Regions from separate parts of the Homo sapiens genome. Here region 2 is linked to region 1. The links come from fine-mapping of genetic effects on gene expression. A gene starts in region 1. The other region holds a variant in brackets. All regions are shown on one strand. Distances are between the middles of the regions.

What was found.
Region 2: its variant is fine-mapped to the expression of LINC00511 in lung (GTEx, PIP 0.99).

Annotation. Positions count from the first base shown.
Region 1 is chr17:72,639,109-72,642,016 of GRCh38, reverse strand. LINC00511 (long intergenic non-protein coding RNA 511) reads left to right here and starts at 1,545. Exons shown (of 5, transcript NR_033876.1): 1 at 1,545-1,646. LOC105371887 (a long non-coding RNA gene) reads right to left here and starts at 1,342. Exons shown (of 4, transcript XR_934961.3): 1 at 1,299-1,342; 2 at 924-1,094.
Region 2 is chr17:72,332,321-72,335,228 of GRCh38, reverse strand. No RefSeq gene overlaps it. Among named protein-coding and RNA genes, the nearest start is that of LINC02003, 9.0 kb to the left of the region's middle. The variant G/A (reference allele first, on the strand shown) is at 1,191.

The DNA of each region.
Region 1 (2,908 bases):
CCCGAGTAGCTGGGACTACAGGCATGCGCCACCATGCCCGGCTAATTTTTGTATTTTTGTAGAGACGGGCTTTCACCATGTTGGCCAGGCTGGTCTCAAACTCCTGACCTCAGGTGATCTGCCTGCCTCTGCCTACCAAAGTGCCAGAATTACAGGCACGAGCCACGGTGACTGGCCGTTCTATTTTCTCAGTTGTATGGACTCAAGAGGGAAGAGGGTATTTCAGAACTGTCATAGGAAGCCCTTGGTTTGGTTTAAGTCTCTTCCTTCAGCTGGTAACTTCGGGACTTGAGCTTGCCAGTGTCTTTTTTTAAGCTGTGTGGCATGGCTTAACAGGACTGCCTGGCCGGCGCATCTGTAATCCCAGCACGTTGGGAGGCCGAGGCGGGCGGATCACGATGTCAGTGGATCGAGACCATCCTGGCCAACATGGTGAAACCCCGTCTCTACTAAAAATACAAAAATTAGCCGGCGTGGTGGCGTGCATCTGTAATCCCAGCTACTCGGGAGGCTGAGGCAGGAGAATCACTTTAACCCGGGAGGTGGAGGTTGCAGTGAGCCGAGATCACGCCACTGTACTCCAGCCTGGCGACAGAGTGAGACTCTGTCACAAAAAAAACAGGACTGCCTATTGGGCCTCATATGCTTGACTGTTTGATGGCAGAAACAACTCATTGGCTACAGGCTTTGCTTTGAATGGACCCTTCTTCCAGGTGACCGGTATGATGAGAAGTAGAGAGGTAGGGGCAGGTGTCAGCGTCTGGATCTTCTCTGGGATCCCAACAGAAGACATTTTCGTCCTGCTGTGCTGAAGACGGGACCGGAAGGCCATTGCTCAGGTATTCACTCTACCAGACGGGGCTTTACGCTCCCACCACTTCCTCGAATCCCCCGTGAGGTAGATATTATTATCCTGACTTTACCTGTGAGGACAGGAACGCAGTGGCGGGGTGGGTTCTCACTGTGCGTGGAGGCAGCAGGACGCAGAAATCGACCTCCCCCACGCGCCTCGCCAGCAGCTTTCAGTTTCGTGGCCCAACGCCCTGCACTGCACGCCTCTCCTCTGGGATAATTGATAGTTGAATCTGTGTAAGCTGGAAGCAAATGAGAGCCCAGCGGCTGTTCTTTCCCATTCCTTTTAGATTGAGGCAAAGGGACAAATCTGCGATGTGAATAATACAGCTCCAGGAATTTTTATCAGCGCGCCCCACGCCCGGCCCTGCCTGAGGGTCTTTCTAAGCCACAGGCGTCCCTTCCCAGGTCTTGTCTCTTCCCTTCCGCGAATGCCCTCGGCTCACCCAGCAGGCAGGTGTGATCCGGCTCCGCGCTGGGGCCAGGTGAGGCCGGGCTGCCTGCCCCGGTGCACGTTCCCAGGGCGCGGCGCCCAGTCGGCGGGGCCTGCGGGCTGGGCCTCCCCGGGGCGCCGGGCGTGGCGCCGGGGGCAGGTCCCCGGGCTGCCCTGCAGGGCGGCCGGCCGGCGGCCAGCGGCTGTTTACCTGTGCAGGGCGAGGCGAGACTCGTGGCGGTGCCGGGGCTTTGCACGCAAGGGGCGATGCGCCCCGGAGGGGGAGGGACGCAAGGGGCGACTACTGTTACCTCGCTTGGAGATACCAAGGCCGGTCGGACCCCCCGCTGGCCGAATGTGGGTAGGCTGCCCCCAGTTTGTCCCTTCCCAGGGTGGATCCAGATTTGGGGGCCGGAAGTGTATACAACGTGGGGAGCGCCCTTTGGGAAAAATAATACAGAAGTCCCAGTACAAGCTTAGGTGCAGGGCTTTTTTGGAAGGGGGCCTGTGAGTGAGGGTCCCCGAAGCCCAGGCTTCCTTGGCTTTTAGGTAACCTCACCTCTGAATCAGGGCAGGGAAGCCTGAGGTGCTCGGGGGTTTAGAGGCTTTCCAGACACTGCAGGAACCCTATTTAGTTAATTCACTTTTCCTTCATCTTCCACACACCCCAGCCCAGCACCTGGGAGAAGGGATGGCGCTGTGTTCAGAGGCAGGAGGAACCCAGCCCACAATTGTGCTTCTCTCTCCTGCCCTGGGAAGAACTAAACCCATCTTCCTCCTCCTTCCAGTAGAATGCGGGAGGCTGGGCCTGGCCATCCAGGGCTGAGCAAAACAGTAACCCTGAACCTACCTCTGGATTCTCTCCCGCTCTCTGACCTTCTAGCTCTCAACCCAGTGAAAGTGTCTGGACTCTGCCAGTGGCTTAATAGGGAAAGCGTCCTGGGGAGCCACCGTCTGTCCCCAGGGACTGTCACTGACCCCTCAGAGGTCCCCGATGGGGCTTCTGATGGAGCTGCTCGGACCCCAGACCTTCAAGAATCCTCAGGGTACGAGGCTACTGCCCTCTGCCCCAAGACAGGGAAGATGTGTGTGGGTGGAAGAGCTGGAAGTGTCAGAGGCATGTGAACCAGAACAACTCCATCTTAAATAGGAGCTGGGTAAAATGAGGCTGAAACTTACTGGACTGCCTATCCAGGCAGTTAAGGCATTCTAAGTCACAGGATGAGATAGGAGGTCAGCACAAAAATATGGGTCATAAAGACCTTGCTGATAAAACAGGTTGCAGTAAAGGAGCTGGCCAAAACCCACCAAAACTAAAATGGTCACGAGAGTGACCTCTGGTCATCCTCACTGCTACACTCCCACCAGCACCATGACAGTTTACAAATGCCACTGCAATGTCAGGAAGTTACCCTATATGGTCTAGAAAGGAGAGGCATGAATAATCCACCCCTTGTTTAGCATATCTTCAAGAAATAACCATAAAAATAGGCAACCAGCAGCCCTTGGGGCTGCTCTGTCTACAGAGTAGCCATTCTTTTATTCCTTTACTTTCTTAATAACCTTGCTTTCACTTTGCACTTTGGACTCACCTTGAATTCTTGCGGGAGATCCAAGAACCCT
Region 2 (2,908 bases), 310 kb after region 1:
ACCATATCTTTAAGCTTGTCTCCAAGGCTAACACCTTCCATTTACAATTCAATGAAGTTCTGTCCAAAGAGGGAGGCTCAGCCTATTTGATCCTGCTACTATTTTCAAAGTGGTCAAACCAGTGAATAAGAAGTATGGGTTTAAGCTCTGGGATCAAATGGTGTCCTCTTCACTGATTGTTAGCTAAAATTAATAGATCTCTGGTAGAAAGAGGTCGCACGGGATGAACAGGCTTGTTAATGGAATAGAAGATGGCTGGTTCACCTGGGACAAGTGCTTTGGCTCCAGCTCTCTTCTGCTATTGGCTGGGCCCAGGCAGAAACAGCAACGCTGGCCCTCTAAACGCAGAGGCACAGCTCCCAGACACTCCATCTGCAATCCCTGTTGCCTGGTGAATGCCTTGCTTCCCTAAGCCTTTCAGGCCAAGGGTGTTCTTGGTGGGACAAAGGCCCTGAGGACCACCTCCCCAGCTCTACCCACTGGCCATCACCAAGTCCTCCAGCAGTGGGAAGAATCTGACCCATTCCACTTGAGCACATGGCTCTTATTTCCTTTGATGGAGGGATTAGAGGAGAGAAGACACAAAATAAATGAGAAGAGTATGGGGTGCATGCCCCTGGTAGGAAATGGGGCTGGGAATGAGGGTGATAAGAACGAGATGGAATCTACTATCAGTACCCCTGGGAAGCTGTCCGTGCCCTCTCTTTTCTCTGGCTCATCCCTACTGCATTCTTCCCAGCAGCTGTTTCGACTCTTCTCCTCCTTCCTCAGGCCTCCACATCCACCCCCATCATTCACAGAAGATGACTTCACCTCCAGCTCACTGAGAGGACTGAGCCATTGGTCTATACTGACTCCAAGTGGCCCACAAGTCTGGCTATGCCATTGGAAAGACCTGGATTTCAATCCACCTTCTGGCATTTTTACAGTGGTTTATGAGCAACTTAATTAACCTCTCTTGGGCTCAGTTTTCTCACATATAAAATGGGGCTGTTGTGAGGATTAAACAATGCAGAGAACTTGCATGTAAACAAAAAGTAAGGTTAACCATTCATTGTTACTACTAATGATGTTATAATACTACTACTATAGGCACCACCACCTGCAGCATTCACTCCCTCCAAGTGCAGCCTCGCTTCCTTCCAGAGTCCTACCTCTTGTCTAAGGATGGCCTCTCCACTGGAGCAGAA[G/A]CCATCTGTTCCTACCTTATTCCAAATGGTTATCTCTGGCAACTTCACACCCCCTCTTCTTGCCACTGTCTTCCTCTCGGTGTTCAAATATGTTCAACTTCCACATTTAACTTCCCAAATGCTTCCCTGCCCCCTCTTTTTTAAAAAAATTATTCCCTCAAACCACAGTCTCATCTCTTTCCTTCTTTTCACTAACAGATTTATCCAAAGAATCATCTGTACTTATTGACACCACTTCCTTACCTCCCACTCCCTCTTCAACCCACTGAATTTGCCTCTGCCCCACTGTTCTGGTGCAATGGAACTTTCAAAGGTCTTTCCCATTGTCCTCTTCCAACCTACTCACTCCTGCAGGAGCGTCTGGCTCTGTTGATCCTGGCAGTCATCCCCAAACCTTCTTCTCCACAGGTGTCCATGAGCCTGTTTCTCCCTGAATCTTCTTTTCTTTTGCACAAGTCTCAGTATCATCTCAGTGTACCCTCACTGTCATCTTTTTGACCCTCTCCCTGGGTGGTCTCACACCCTCCCTCTTCAGCCATGATTGTCCCCAGGATTCTGCCATCTGCCAAATCCACATCTCCAGCTCTGGCCTCTTCTGTGCTCCAGATTTTCATTGCCAGCTCCTTGCCCTCTTACACAAGAATGTCCTGCTCAGCCTGTCCAGTCCCCATATCTGATACTAAACTGTCAGTCATCTAGTGGGTCTGCTTATTTCTTTCTCCATCACTCGTCTGGTAATCAATCGGTCTTGTTGAATCTGCCTTCAAATTGGTACTTTGATCTAGTACTTTGCCTTCCCATGAGTTCTCTGCCTTTGGAAGTCCCTACCTCCTGCTTGGATAGTTGATATGGCCTCTGAATGGCTCTCTGGTCCAGCCTCCTTTTGCCCCTGGTTTCTGTGTCCCATGGACAGCAGGGTGATCTAAACTGAGAGTGATCATGTAATTCTTCATCTAAAGGAAAGTGCTTTTATGAGTGAATGGGGGTTCCATTGATAATTATGCCAGTGGATTATCCTGGGCAGACAGAGATGTGTGTTCACTGTGTTAAAATGATGTTCTGATTACGTAATTTCCTGGTCTGAGAATCTTATGCGCCCCTCCCCCATGATAACATGTAATCTTGCTCATATTTGTAATCTCAGTGATTTGGGAGGCTGAGGCAGGAGGATCGTTTGAGGCCAGGAGTTTGAGACCAGCCTGGGCAATATAGTGAGACCTCTGTCTCTATAAAAATAAAAAAGCTTATCCCGGCATGTTGGTACATACCTATACTCCTAGATACTCAGAAGGCTGAGGCAGGAGGATGGCTTGAGCCCAGGAGGTGGAGGCTGCAGTGAGCTATGGTTGCACCACTCCTGCCTGGGCGACAGAACGAGGCTCTGAGTCAAAACAAAACAAAACAAAAAAGAAACCATGCAATCTCAGCACTGCATCTGTGGCTCTGTCATGATCTGGCCTCCTTCAGTTCTTTAAGCCTCACTCATTCTGGGCTCTGTCTGCACCTGACTGTCCTTAATGCTTCATCATTTCCTGAAATGCTTGTCCCCTCCTGTCTTCAGCCTGTGCTCTCATGGTTCCCTCCCGGAAGCCCTGGCTGTTTCTCCATCCTTGTCCTTCAAGGCTCAGCTCAAATGCCACCTCCTCCCTGAAGCCTTTACTAATACTGGCTGTTTGGATGAATTTCTTCCTCTTTGTTCTGGCAGCACCTTTCACAAT